2 linked regions of the Homo sapiens genome follow. Each later gene encodes a partner of the first gene's protein in a complex. Each region holds a gene or a part of one and is shown on either strand. Other genes may lie near its edges. A codon is read from its position in the direction of its gene.

What was found.
Region 2: the proteins of PDHB (region 1) and PDHA1 are in contact, whole or in part, in a crystal structure (PDB 3EXE), measured with the Homo sapiens proteins. Residues at the interface, in NP_000916.2 of Homo sapiens: Glu59 (codon at 5,959), Gln62 (codon at 5,968), Tyr63 (codon at 5,971), Ala66 (codon at 5,980), Asp84 (codon at 6,117), Pro86 (codon at 6,123), Ile87 (codon at 6,126), Ser88 (codon at 6,129), Glu89 (codon at 6,132), Met111 (codon at 6,950), Phe115 (codon at 6,962), Gln118 (codon at 6,971), Ala152, Gly153, Val154, Ala155, Ala156, Gln157, His158, Pro297, Val323, Arg324, Val325, Thr326, Gly327, Ala328, Asp329, Val330, Met332, Pro333; in NP_000275.1 of Homo sapiens: Ile87 (codon at 3,849), Arg88 (codon at 3,846), Gly89 (codon at 3,843), Phe90 (codon at 3,840), Glu137 (codon at 2,529), Leu138 (codon at 2,526), Thr139 (codon at 2,523), Gly140 (codon at 2,520), Gly148 (codon at 822), Lys149 (codon at 819), Gly150 (codon at 816), Gly151 (codon at 813), Met153 (codon at 807), His154 (codon at 804), Asn164 (codon at 774), Gly165 (codon at 771), Ile166 (codon at 768), Val167 (codon at 765), Gly197, Ala198, Asn200, Gln201, Gln203, Gly228, Met229, Gly230, Thr231, Arg235, Ala236, Asp296.

The regions. Positions count from the first base shown.
Region 1 is NC_000003.12:58,430,833-58,437,864, reverse strand, and holds the start of PDHB (pyruvate dehydrogenase E1 component subunit beta, mitochondrial isoform 1 precursor), read left to right. Parts: upstream 1-4,032; 5' UTR 4,033-4,055; coding exon 4,056-4,097; exon of another isoform or gene 4,098-4,180; coding exon 4,181-4,234; exon of another isoform or gene 4,235-4,270; intron 4,271-5,880; coding exon 5,881-5,988; intron 5,989-6,071; coding exon 6,072-6,134; intron 6,135-6,236; coding exon 6,237-6,272; intron 6,273-6,922; coding exon 6,923-7,032. UniProt on the Homo sapiens protein: The pyruvate dehydrogenase complex catalyzes the overall conversion of pyruvate to acetyl-CoA and CO(2), and thereby links the glycolytic pathway to the tricarboxylic cycle.
Region 2 is NC_000023.11:19,346,897-19,353,926, reverse strand, and holds part of PDHA1 (pyruvate dehydrogenase E1 component subunit alpha, somatic form, mitochondrial isoform 1 precursor), read right to left. Parts: intron 4,616-7,030; coding exon 4,556-4,615; intron 3,991-4,555; coding exon 3,817-3,990; intron 2,668-3,816; coding exon of another isoform or gene 2,647-2,667; coding exon 2,520-2,646; intron 846-2,519; coding exon 754-845; intron 1-753. UniProt on the Homo sapiens protein: The pyruvate dehydrogenase complex catalyzes the overall conversion of pyruvate to acetyl-CoA and CO(2), and thereby links the glycolytic pathway to the tricarboxylic cycle.

The sequences.
Region 1 (7,032 bases):
AAAAAGAGCTTATGTGAAAAATAATTATTCTTGCTACACTTTATATAAATAATCAGGCCAAGTATAACAAAGCAAATCAGTCTTACCAAGATTTGCCTTTAGTAAAAATGGGAAACTGGAGAGAGAAATATAATGTTTCAAGAACTTATGGTACACTGGTTATTAGATTCTAGTCTCATCAGTTGTTTTTAAGTTTGTTTCTGCAATTTAGGCTAACCCAGCTTATTCCTGTGAACCAACCAGTGATCTCTGACTGCTGCTCAAAACAAACAAGAGTGATGGTGTCAGGTCTCTGAGCCCAAGCCTGCACGTATTCATTCAGATGGCCTGAAGCAAGTGAAGAATCACAAAAGAACTGAAAATGGCCGGTTCCTGCCTTAACTGGTGACATTACCTTGTGAAATTCCTTCTCCTGGCTCGTCCTGGCTCAGGAGCTCCCCGACTGAGCACCTTGTGACCCCCCACTTCTGCCAGCCAGAGAACAAACCCCTTTGACTGTAATTTTCCACTACCTACCCAAATCCTATAAAACGGCCCCACCGCTATCTTCCTTCGCTGACTCTCTTTTTGGACTCAGCCCGCCTGCACCCAGGTGATTAAAAAGCTTTATTGCTCACATAAAGCCTATTTGGTGGTCTCTTCACATGGACGCGCATGGAAGATGGGTAATGTAAAAATCTGAATCGATATTCTAATTCTGAACACACTGGAATCAGCTAGCAACCCCACATCAGCTTGGTTCCAACAGTTGCCCAGTTCATGGAAAGCCTTCTAATTTAGTTTACTTGGGATAATTTTACTTATTTTGCTTTACTCTTGTGGAATATATTGCTATTGTACTCTTTGTGTAGGAGTGCAGGATAAGCTTACTGAATGTTTTCTTAAACTGAATACTTATTAATCTTCCAGATATCACCTTTTGTCAGAACTTGGAGTTATGAATGGCCCTCACTATACTGATGTTTTCTGAGCTCCTCTCTACTCTGAACATAAGGGACCCTAATAGTTAAGCAGGAATATCATCACCCCTATTCAGCCTGAAGAAGTTACAGAAGATGCATCTTCATCCCTCCGAAACTTTTAGGATTAAAGTTTCTCTCATAATAGGGAGGAGGCAAATGTCAGAGGAATGTGAACCAGAGCAACTCCATCTTGAATAGGAGCTGGGTAAAATGAGGCAGAGACCTACAGGGCTGCATTCCCAGACAGTTAGGCATTCTCAGTCACAGGATGAGATAGGAGGTCAGCACAAGATACAGGTCATAAAGACCTTGCTGATAAAACAGGTTGCAGGAAAGAAGCTGGCCAAAACCCACCAAAACCAAGACGGCGATGAGCATGACCTCTGGTCATCCTCACTGCTACACTCCCACCAGCGCCATGACAGTTTATAAATGCCACGGCAATGTCAAGAAGTTACCCTATATGGTCTAAAAAGGGGAGGCATGAATAATCCACCCCTTGTTTAGTATAAAATCAAGAAATAATCATAAAAATGGGCAATCAGCAGCCCTCAGGGCTGCTCTGTCTATAGAGTAGCCATTCTTTTATTGCTTTACTTTCTTAATAAACTTGCTTTTGCTTTGCACTGTGGACTTGCCCTGAATTCTTTCTTGTGTGAGATCCAAGAACTCTCTCTTGGGATCTCGATCGGGACTGCTTTCCTGTAACATCTCCTTTTGCTTGGCAAATCTGATCCTGAAATCTTTTGGTGCTAGGTTGTGGGAAAGGTGGGAAGGACTGATTCACTTTTTCATTCTGAGCACCACCCACAAACTTTTGGGGGCTGAAATCTCAAGTTCAGGAGTTTCTCAGGGATGCTGTGGCAGTCTAGGAAGTGCTGGCCATTCCTGAGGCCCTGGCAGGGACAGTTGGGACTAGACGATGGTGGCAGGTGAGGGAGACTCAGAAGGTGTTGATTCCATATCTTGAAGATCTTCTATCCATTTTACAGATGAAACAGTCCCAGAGAGTAAATGTCATCTCTATGCAGCTGTCCCCAAATTTCTACCTTTAGCCCTGACTAGGCCCTAGGCTCCAGGCAACCTGGGTATGTCCCAGTCATCTAAAGAATAAAGGCTGGCTGCAGTGGCTCATGCCTGTAATCCCAGCACTTTGGGAGGCTGAGGCGGGTGGATCACTTGAGGTCAAGAGTTCAACATCAGCCTGGTCAACATAGTGAAAACTCATCTCTACTAAAAATAAAAAAAATTAGCCGGGCATGGTGGCAGGTGCCTGTAATCCCAGCTACTCGGGAGGCTGAAGCAGGGGAATAGCTTGAACCTGGGAGGCAGAGGTTGCAGTGAGGCCCACTGCACTTCAGCCTGGGTGACAGAGTGAAACTCCATCTCAAAAAATAAACAAAAATACACTCTTACTTCCCCAGCTCCTGGCACTTACACTGCCCCAGGCTCCTCCCTTACCCCATCTATCCATCCAGCAATGACAAAAATCCAAAATTTTCCTCTGCTCTTCCCTAGCACTTACAGCATTCCTATTGATTCTAGCCCAAATAGATCTCAAAACTGTCCCCCTCCTCTCCATCTGGAAGTTGCCTCCTAGTCTGCCTCTGTTGCTGCCACAGACTTCCCAGCATCCGCCTGTTCTGCCTTTGCCTCCACCCCCTCCCATTCCCAGTCAGCAACCTACTGGAAGTTGCAAATTCCTAATTTGGCAGCCTGCAGCTGTGATCCATAGAAGGGAATGTTTGGAATGTCTTGGGGATGGGTGGAGACTGGGTGCTCAATTGTCCCATCTGACCCCCAAGGGCCAAATTAAGACTAATGAGCTTCCAGAGGTTGTCCCTATGGCCAAGTGTTTGGCACCTCCCCATAAGGGAGGAGACCACCCCTCATATTGTCTTATGCCCAATTTCTGCCTCCAAAGAAAGAAAAAGTAAAAACTAAAAGGCAGAAATGAAATCCACAAACAGACAGCCTGGTGCCACACCCTGGGCCTGGTAAAGATCGACCCCGACCTAATCGGTTATGTTAACTATAGATTACAGACATTGTATAGAAAAGCACTGTGAAAATCCCTATCCTGTTCCAGTCTAATTACCGGTGCTTGCAGCCCCTAGTCACATACCCCCTGCTTGCTCAATCAATCATGACCCTCTCACGCACACCTCCTTAGAGCTGTGAGCCCTTAAAAGGGACAGGAATTGCCCATTCAGGGAGCTCGGCTCTTGAGACAAGAGTCTTGCCCATGCCCCTGGCCGAATAAACCCCTTCCTTCTTTAACTCGGTGTCTGAGGAGTTTCGTCTGCGGCTTGTCCTGCTACATCCATAGGGCCGCCCTTCTCTAAAGTTGTTGTAACCTTCCCCCAAGCAGGAATCCACTTCTGCTTTAGGAAGCAGTGGGAAAAAGACCATGCTTTAGAGTCAAGACAGTCCTAAATTAAAATATCGGCTCATTTAATCAATTTCTGCTTCAGTTTAACCGTCTTCAAAATGGAGATAATAATAACACTAATTACCCAAGTGGGGTACTGTGAGAATGAGCTATACAGCACATATCTCAATGCTTGGCTCACAGTAGGTGCTTAATGCAATCAATGAAAGCTATGATGTGCATTATAAGGAATCAACAGACAGCACTGTCCAGGGAAGACTAGACTCACTCATGAAGTGTTAAGTTCCCCATCAGTAGAGCGTGTGCAAGCACTTCTTGGTGCCCAAAGGATTCCAGCACCCACAACAGGTTGGCCTAACTCTTAAGGTCTCTCCAGCTTCCAGAGATCATGCTCCTCAGGGTCTGACTTCTAGTCCCCACGCTTCAAGTAACACCGACCAGGCACGTGTGCCCAGCGTGCACCCCGCCTGTCGGTCACCGCCTACTGTCAATAAAGTTGATTTGAGGCGGCTCCAGGCAGAGGGGCACGGCCACCCACACGCCACCTCAGCCCGGCCCCGCGGCCCCTCACCCGGTGGGCGGGTGGGCGGGTCACGCAGCCGGCGCGCCTTGCCATTGGCCCGCGCCGGTGGAGGCGGGGCCTGCTCACGTCTGCCGGCCCCTCTGTTGTCGTTTGGCAGCGGATAGAGGACACGACCAAGATGGCGGCGGTGTCTGGCTTGGTGCGGAGACCCCTTCGGGAGGTAGGCAGCAGCGCGCGGCCTGTATTCCCACGCGACCCCTGCCCACCCTGCGTCCCGCCGTCATCTTCCTCTCTCCCTGCCAGGTCTCCGGGCTGCTGAAGAGGCGCTTTCACTGGACCGCGCCGGCTGCGCTGCAGGTAACAGGCGCGGGTGCTCGTCGGACGAGGGCGGGGAGGGTCCCCCCTTCTCTCGGGAAGGAGGCCGGAGTCGCGCCTGCGCTGTGGCCTTCCGGCGCCGTGGGCCTTGGGTTTGCGGAGCCAGCATCCTCCGTGGAGCTCCTGCTGCCTCTGTCGCCGCCTGGCAATTAGCACACCGGCGAGTCACCACCTCACAGCTGGCTGGGCAATGGGGGAAAACTAAGACTAGGCGTTTCCTCCCTCACTCCATGTTTTTTTCTTTAAATTGCAGCAAAATAGACCTAACTTAAAATGTACTTTTTAGAAGTGTATAATTCAGTGGCATTAAGTACATTCACCATGTTGTACAACCATTAACCACCATCCATTTCCAGAACTTTTTAATCATCCCAAGCAGAAACTGTCCATTACTCGGTAACTCCTCATTTCCCTTCCCCAAACCCCTGGTAACCCCTGTTGTACTTTTCTGTCTTTATGAGGTTGCCTATTCTAGAACTTCTTATAAGTGGCATCATTTGTCCTTTTGTGTCTGGCTTATCTCAGCGTAATGTCCTCAAGGTTCATCCATGTTGTAGCATGCGTCAGAGTTTGATTCTTTCCTAAGGCTGAATAATATATATATGTATATTTTTTTGAGATAGTCTCCCTCTGTCACCCAGGTTGGAGTGCAGTGGCGCGATCTCAGCTCACTGCAACCTCCACCTCCTGGGCTCAAGGGATTCTCGCGCCTCACACTCCTGAGTAGCTGTGATTAGATGCCGGTGCCACCACACCGGGCTAATTTTTGTATTTTTAGTACAGACAGGGTCTCACCATATTGCCCAGGCTGGTCTTGAACTCCTGGCCTCAAGTGATCTGCCTGCCTTGGCCTCCCAAAGTGCTAGGATTACAGGCATGAGCCACCTCGCTCAGCCCGACATTTTCTTTTTTTTTTTTGAGACGGAGTTTTGCTCTTGCTGCCCAGGCTAGAGTGCAGTGGCACTATCTCAGCTCACTGCAATCTCTGCCTCCTGGGTTCAAGCAATTCTGCCTCAGCCTCCCGAGTAGCTGGGATTACAGGCACCCGCCACCACACCCGGCCAATTTTTGTATTTTTAGTAGAGAATGGGTTTCACCATGTTGGCCAGGGTGGTCTCGAACTCCTGACCTCAAGTGATCCACCTGCCTTGGCCTCCCAGAGTGCTGGAATTACAGGTGTGAGCCACCGTGCCTGGCCTTGTTTTGTCTATTGTGAGTAATGCTGCTGTGAACATTGATGTGCAAGTATATGCTTGAATCCCTGCTTTCAATTATTTGGGGCATATACATAGAAGTGGAATTGATGGATTGTATGTTAATTCTCCTCTCCTTCCTTTTTTTAACTAGATTTTACCATTCATTATATTAAAAGAGCAACTCCTACATTCTGGATGCAAAGTATTTGGCAGTACTTGGCACCTAGTGAGCACTCAGTACATTAACACATGCAAAGACCAACTATGTGTAATAGAAATGTTACTTTTAGAATTCTTTGAGTTTTTAGAGAGAAGCTTGTTCTAGTGTTTTTATATTGTATGCTGTGGGCAGCCTAGGTAAATATAAAGGAAGAAAATCTTAGTTGAATCCCAAACAATTCTGTATTGACTGTTTTTGCATACCTGTGACAGGTGACAGTTCGTGATGCTATAAATCAGGGTATGGATGAGGAGCTGGAAAGAGATGAGAAGGTATTTCTGCTTGGAGAAGAAGTTGCCCAGTATGATGGGGCATACAAGGTAACTAAAATATATGAAAGTTATACAAAATTGAGGTCACTGTTACCCCCAGATACACTTAAGGGATCAACTCTTAATTGTAGGTTAGTCGAGGGCTGTGGAAGAAATATGGAGACAAGAGGATTATTGACACTCCCATATCAGAGGTAAGCCTTCCAGTGGGAAGCAGACCCTGGAGGGCATGTCTGTTAGTGTCCATTATCCTCATTTTTATGGATTTTCACTTATGTTTATATTTTACTTTATAGATGGGCTTTGCTGGAATTGCTGTAGGTGCAGCTATGGTATGTAATACTCTTTATGAAACTTATCCAAAGACATTTCTTGTTTTCTTTTTTTTTCTTTTGAGACAGAGTCTCACTCTGTTGTCCAGCCTGGAGTGCACTGGCACCATCTCAGCTTCCAGGTTCAAGCAATTCTCCTGCCTCAGCCTCCATAGTGGCTGGGGTTACAGGTCGCGCCACTGTGCCTAGCCAATTTTTGTGTTTTTAGTAGAGATGGGGTTTTACCATGTTGGCCAGGCTGGTCTTGAACTCCTGGCCTCAAGTGATCCGACCGCCTTGGCCTCCCAAAGTGCTGGGATTACAGGCGTGAGCCACTGTGCCCATCCCCAAAGAGATTTAACATCACCTTTTAAAAACATCATTTGGGAAAAAAAAAAAATACCAAGTAGGTAGATGTGGTGGTGCTTGCCTGCAGTCCCAGCTACTCGGGATGCTGAGGAAGGATTACTTGAGCCTAGGAGTTAGAGGCTGCAGTGAGCTATGATGTGTGCCACTGCACTCCAGCATGGGTGACAGTGAGACCCTGTCCATAAAAAATAAAAATAAAAAATAAAAACATTATTTGAATGTTGGAAGACTTGGAGTGATTTGTTTGCTACTGTTTGTTGCTGTTTCTAGTCTTTTTAACATCCACGTTTTTGATTTTACAGGCTGGGTTGCGGCCCATTTGTGAATTTATGACCTTCAATTTCTCCATGCAAGCCATTGACCAGGTTATAAACTCAGCTGCCAAGACCTACTACATGTCTGGTGGCCTTCA
Region 2 (7,030 bases), on another chromosome or scaffold:
ATAATAGAATCTTAATATATTAGAAAGGAAAAGAAACAGTCCGGATATAATTTTGTGCTGTTAATTCTTCATCATTCACTAACTGATGAGAACAAGGACCCCAAAATGAAGTTGACAAGATAAAGCAATTAATGTACTGAAATATAAATAGGAAGGGGAAGGTATGGCTCCACTGCTAGAGGTTCCTGCTTACTTATAAAACAGCAGACACCTAAAAGGAAACATTATAAATCACCATCCAAATCTACTCATCTCTCAAACGGTAGGATATGAAGCACTAGGTCTTTAAAAGCAAACCAAGCCCCCAAAATAGTCACGCGTCACTTAACAACAGGGATATATTCTCAGAATTGCATCACTAGGCGATTTTGTCATGTGAACACCATACTGTAATGCACGAACCTAGATGGTACAGCCCACTGCACACCTAGGCTGTATAGTAGAGCCTACTGCTCCTAGGCTACAACCCTGCACAGCATGTGACTCTACTGAATCCTGTAGGCAAAATATTTGTGTACCTAAACGTAGAAAAGGTAATGTGTTGTGCCACTACAACATCACTAGGCGACAGGAATTTTTCAGCTCCATTATAATCTTATGGGTCCAACATCATATATGCGACATTGACCAAAGCGTCACTGTGCAGCACATGGCTGTACTACTTCAGGAAAAGTTGTCTGGGGCTGTGAAAGTTTTTGAAGACAAAGTCCAGGGCCAAATCTAAAGCAGCACACAATCCTCGTCCTTGACTACCTGCGCTCCCACGATGCCATTGCCCCCGTAGAAGTTCTTGGCATACATGTGCATCGATCCTCCTTTCCCTTTAGCACAACCTCCTTTTCGTCCTGGAAATGGCAGAACATACACATGTGCAGAACAAACCAACTCTACAAAGCAAACCAAACCGCACCCCAAATATGTACTCTGAGGCTCAACCATTAGAACACAGAGGCCAGTTCAGTCGTCTAAGTACCTGTCCCTCCAGGCAAACACATGTTTCTCCTTGTCCTTTCACTAGTTCCATGTGCTTCAACCTTTCCAGCTTTTCCTACTCTCTAGTCACTTAGTTTCCTTCAGATGTTCCATCCAGATGATACCCTGGACTTTTCTGGGTTTTCTGGCCAGTTACAAACATCTTAGGACCTCTCCTATACTAGTACACTAAATATATTCAATCCTTGAACAGGGTTTGAACTGCACAGGTACACTTATACACAGATTTTTTTTCAGCCACACATGTATTGAAAATAGAATATTCTCAGGATGCAAACCCGAAGATATGGAAGGCTGACTTTGGGACTTGAGTATTTGAGGATTTTTGTATACTCGAGGGTCCTAGAACCAATCCCCTGGATATATAGAGGGACAACCATAGTTCAAGAGTCAAGGAGGGCCGGGCACGGCGGCTCACGCCTGTAATCCTAACATTTTGGGAGGCCGAAGAGGGTGGATCACCTGAGGTCAAGAGTTCAAGACCAGCCTGGCCAACATGGTGAAACCTGGTCTCTACTAAAAATACAGAAATTAGCCAGGTGTGGTGGTTGGGCACCTATAATCCTAGCTACTCAGGAGGCTGAGGCAGGAGAATTGCTTGAACCCGGGGGGCGGAGGCTGCAGTGAGCCAAAATCATACCACTTCACTCCAGCCACTCCAGCCTGGGTGAAAGAGTGAAACTCTGTCTCAAAAAAAAAAAAAAAAAAGGAGGAGGAGGAGGACCGGGCACAGTGGCTCACGCCTGTAATCCTAGCATTTTGGGAGGCTGAGGCAGGCCACTGCACTCCAGCCTGGGCAACAAAGCGAGACTCTGTCTCAAAAAAACAAAACAGGCCAGGTGCGGTGGCTCACGCCTGTAACCCCAGCACACTTTGGGAGGCCAAGGCAGGTGGATCACCTGAGGTCAGGAGTTGGAGACCAGCCTGGCCAACATGTTGAAACCCCATCTCTACTAAAAATACAAAAATTAGCCAGGTGTGGTGGTGCATGCCTGTAGTCCCAGCTACTCAGGAGGTGGAGGCATGAGAATCACTTGAACCCGGGAGGTGGAGGTTGCAGTGAGCCGTGATCACACCACTGCACACCAGCCTGGACAACGGAGTGAGACACAGTCTCAAAAAAAAAAAAAAAAAAAAACCACCAAAACAAACAAATAGTCACGGGGGACAAAGAAAAGGGGAATATTAAGAAGATTTCTAGAATTTACATTGCATACCATGGAGTGCTTCAACCGAACTTACTTTCTATGACTGCTAGACTTCTTCTGGCATGCTTGAATGATAACCAAACCTACTGTGATTTTATAGCACCAACCTGTTTTAAACTTTTACCTGAGGGGCCAGAGAACTTCACAAATGGTCAGTTAACTCAAGAGCACAACAGAAGTACCAGAGCACCAAAGGAGAGAGGGTTAAAAAAAGAAACTTAAAATTTTTAACAAATATTAACTCATAATAGCATCTTAATGACAGATATTTAAAAACTTAATCCACTCATTTCCCCTTTCTGTAAATCAACAGCAAACCTGTAAGCTCTGCGAGAATTTCTCGGACGGAAAGGCCCCGGGTGAAAGTAAAGCCGTGAGCCCGGTAGGCTGTGATGAGATGGTCTGTGGGGTTGATGCCGGCCTCCAGGCCCACACAGCAAGCTTCCTGTGTTAGAGGAAGGAGAAACTATGAGGCAATATGATACATGTTTCTAAATAAAAACGTTTCCTAGACCACAGTGAAATATGTGGGCTAGTAGAACCTGTCATTAATAACCAGAGAAAGTAGCTATTTTCCACCAAAATACAGAGTGGAAGGCCCAAACCAGAAGCAATAAACTGGCAACCCACACATGTGCCACTTCCTTCCTTTCTCCTGTATGATGACCTAAAAGAAAAGCCTACATCAGATGTCAACATTAAAACACTGGGGAATTTCACATGAAAATCCAGACTTCCGCCTTCTCTTAGACATGGAAAACAGGAAACATTACCCCTGATTTCCACATGGCACCAACTGGCTGGAACCAAGTCATGGCATTCCTCTGGGTAGGGCATGCTGGTGCCAGTTCAGCATGAGTCCCTGTCACCATTTTCTGTTTTGTATACCTAGCCTTCTTCACTCATTTATTCTACCTGGCTGGCCCTTGTAGGTATTTGACTCTAACCCTTGACCTAAGCCCACAAAACAAAAAACAAACTAATCCTTTCTCTCCAAATTATATACAGTACAGGCGATCATAGTGCCAGAAAGTTTTAAAATAGTAAAACTCTAAGAACAGGTACAGAAAACTGGCAATGTTATGTGTGAATGAATTCTTTAGCCTAAGCTTCATAGCAGGTTTTGGCATTCTACTTTTTAATTCTAAAATACTGGCTTCAGCCAGGCACAGTGGCTCACGCCTGTAATCCTAGCACCTTGGGAGGCCAAGGTGGGCGGACCACTTGAGCCCAGAAGTTTGAGACTAGCCTGGGCAACATAGTGAAACCCCGTATCTCCAAAAAATACAAAAATTAGCTGGGTGTGTTGGTGTGCACCTGTGGTCCCACATACTCGGGAGGCTGAGGTGGGAGGATTGCTTGAGCCCAGTGGACAGAGGCTGCAGTGAGCCAAGATCACACTGTACTCTAACCAGAGGCTGCAGTGAGCCAAGATCACCACTGTACTCTAACCTGGGCGACAGAGAGAGACTGTCTCAAAAAAATAAATAAATAAAAGAAAATTACATTACCAGCCTCAAACTCTTCTGATACATATGGCAGGGTAAAGCCCAATAAGTACAAGCCATACTTCAGTACCTAAATAACACAGTTCCACCACAAACCTACCACTCACCTGACCATCACACAAGTGACAGAAACCACGAATAATTTTCTGTTTATACAGCTGATCTGCTTTCAACTCCATTCGGCGTACAGTCTGCATCATCCTGTAGTATTTGAGCCCATCCTCCCTGGTGAGCACTGTTGTGACAGGAGGGCCTTCTTCCAGCCGGTGAAGGTCACATTTCTGAAATGGAATAAGGTAGTTATTATCCTCCACATACTACATTGCAAACACTGTTGACCACTCTAAGATCTAACTCCATTGCAAATAATATTGAACTTGAAAAACTGCAAAGGAGCACATCAGTAATGCTTCATATCGCCTCTGTTCCTTAAATCCATAAACCTCACTGTGCAATGAGATGGGGCTTGGGGGAAGGAAATCTTTCTAAGATGATTTTCACTGAAAGCCCCTAGAAGCCAACTGAGTTATAGGTTGAAAGAACCTTCAAAGAAACAACTAAGACTCTTCTTATTCAAATATTTCACTGAATTACATTCCAAACTTTTGAATAAGCTTTTATTTTTATTTTCATTTTCTAGCTCCTCCCCCTTCCCCCCACAGAACAACAGCAAGCTGCTAATAATAAATTCTAGTTTTCGTGAAGCTTCTCTGAACTTCTGATCCTGGAACATTTAGAAGAAAATGATGACTAAGCATGAACATCAAAATGTTCTATTCTAAAGGTAAAACTGTATATCAGAGTGTACCTGTGAAAAAATTATTAACAAAGTAAAACACCTCTTACCTTAATTTCAAATGTAGCATCATTTGCAAAATTACGGGATGCTACCAGCACTCTGCTTGCCTTAAAAGACAAAAATATACAAACAAATCAGTACTTTTTAATTGTCAGCTATTTTGGAAAGTATAATAATCAGTTATCAGAATGAAGTTATGGAAATTTAATAAGCCCCAACATATTCATAGGCTTCTCTTCCACCCTGTGCACTGTGTTTGCATCTTCCTTGGCCTCCAAAATGAATCCATGCTTTGGCCAATGAAACAGGATTATCCCGCATCTGAAGGCAAGCAGCGCAAAGAGGGGCAAAAAACAAACCCATCCTTTGTTTTCAAAGAAATTATAGTGAGAATATAATGAAATTAGTGGCTAAAGAGACTAGATCATCTGTGAGCTGTGTCTGTTTATGCCATTCTTTTGTTTGTTTGTTTTGAGACGGAGTTTTGCTTTTATCACCCAGGCTGGAGTGCAGTGGTGCGATCTCGGCTCACTGCAACCTCCGCTTCCCGGGTTCAAGTGATTTCTCCTGTCTCAGTCTCCCGAGTAGCTGGGATTACAGGTGCCCACCACCACGCCCGGCTAATTTTTATATTTTTAGTAGAGATGGGGTTTCACCATGTTGGCCAGGCTGGTCTCCAACTCCTGACCTCAGGTGATCCACCTGCCTTGGCCTCCCAAAGTACTGGGATTGCAGGCATGAGCCACTGCGTCTGGCCTTTTCATGCCATTCTTAGTCATAACCAGATACTGTTCATTTTGAGCAAGCCAAAATTATACTTCAAATAAAACTATGATTTAATCTCCACTCTAGGCAAACTTGACTCTTCTATCAAATTGGATCTGTAAGAAAAAATATTTTAAATTGATTGAAGTATGAGATAAATACTTTAGGGAGACAAGACAAAAGAAAAGATACTTAGCACTCTCTGACTTAAACACAATGGGCTTGAGCCAGCTGTTTTATAATTTATAATTTGAACAGCCTAAATCTTGGACAGGCTCCTCCTGAAGCCCCAGTAGAAATGTTCTCTGAAACACTGTTCTCTTGATGTTTGGGTGGCTGTCACTGTTTGGAGGTAAAAAGCTTGGAGGCGGGGGGTGAGAAATGATTCCTTTCCAGTTTTACAACTGAGCAAACCTGCTCACAGCAAAAGTATTCTATGTAATGGCTAAGGTTTAGGTTAGACCACAAAATTTATCCAGTAGTATTATCATACTATTTTAGCTCCCTTCTGCCACATTCTCACACACTGACGTGTAAACCAACATGATTTCTCCATAAAAAGCACATCTGATGTGTTCATACCTTACCTAATCCAGCACTGGACTGATCTTGGTGAGAAGAGTTAAGACTGATCTGCCAAGTATACCCTGGAGTGTACAAGCCAATAGGCAGAAAGCTAATTACGTATATCTTCACCCCTCAATAGACCATTATTGGACAAAGCCAACAAACACAGACAATGACAGTGCTGGAGGAAAACAACTGAAATACTAGGAATCAGTGTTTCAGTTAACTTACAGGCAGAGACAGTCCACTAATGTATCTCAGAAAAAGTGAAGGAAATTTAGGAATTTGGGAAGAAGTAAAGCTGAGAGAAGGTGAAACAGCAAATCAATGGTTATATTTAGCAATCAAACAGATGTGTTATTCTTGGCAGTTAATAAATATTTTGTGGGGCCAGAAATTTATTGTATTGTGAAATAAATTTCCAAATACAACTACAGAAACTGCAGTTTTTGGAAGGCAGGAGTCCAAACCAGCCAGGCGACAGTAACAGAGAAAAGGTAACTTCTTTCTCAATCCTAGAGTTGAAACAATGAGGCAGGATAATGCTATACAATAAAGAGCAAGAAGGGGCCCAGTGCTGTGGCATGCGCCTGTAATCTTGCGCCTGCAAAGATTAGGACTGCCAGAAAGCTACTTAGATACTTTCTCCCATGGCTTCATTACTGTGTATCTCAAAAATAAGAACCACTGATATGAGTGAAAGGAACAAAGTTAAAGAAGCTAAAAGTCCTATCAGAAGTGTGTGTGTATCATTTCTGAGTGAGAGCTTGTTGAAAAGATAAGTTTACCATTCATTTTCTCTGGAGAGCCATAAAAAGATTCTCTGTTAAATGGGATTCCTCTCTGACAGAGACCACGAACAACCCACTCAAATTTTAAAAAATAAAAACTAGGCCGGGCATGATGGCTCACACCTATAATCCCCAGCACTTTGGGAGGCCAGGGTGGGAGGACCACTTGAAGCCAGGAGTTCAAAGCCAGCCTGGGCAACATGAGACTCTCATCTCTACAAAAATAAATATTAAAAAATTAGTCAGGTATGGTGGCACACACCTGAGGCTACAGTGAGCTATGACTGTGCCACTGCATTCCAGCCTAAAAAAAAAAATTAATTAAAAAAAAGTAAAACTTTAACTTCCTAAATACATAGGAACCATTCATGTGAAAGAGGAAAAACGTTTCAAAAATTC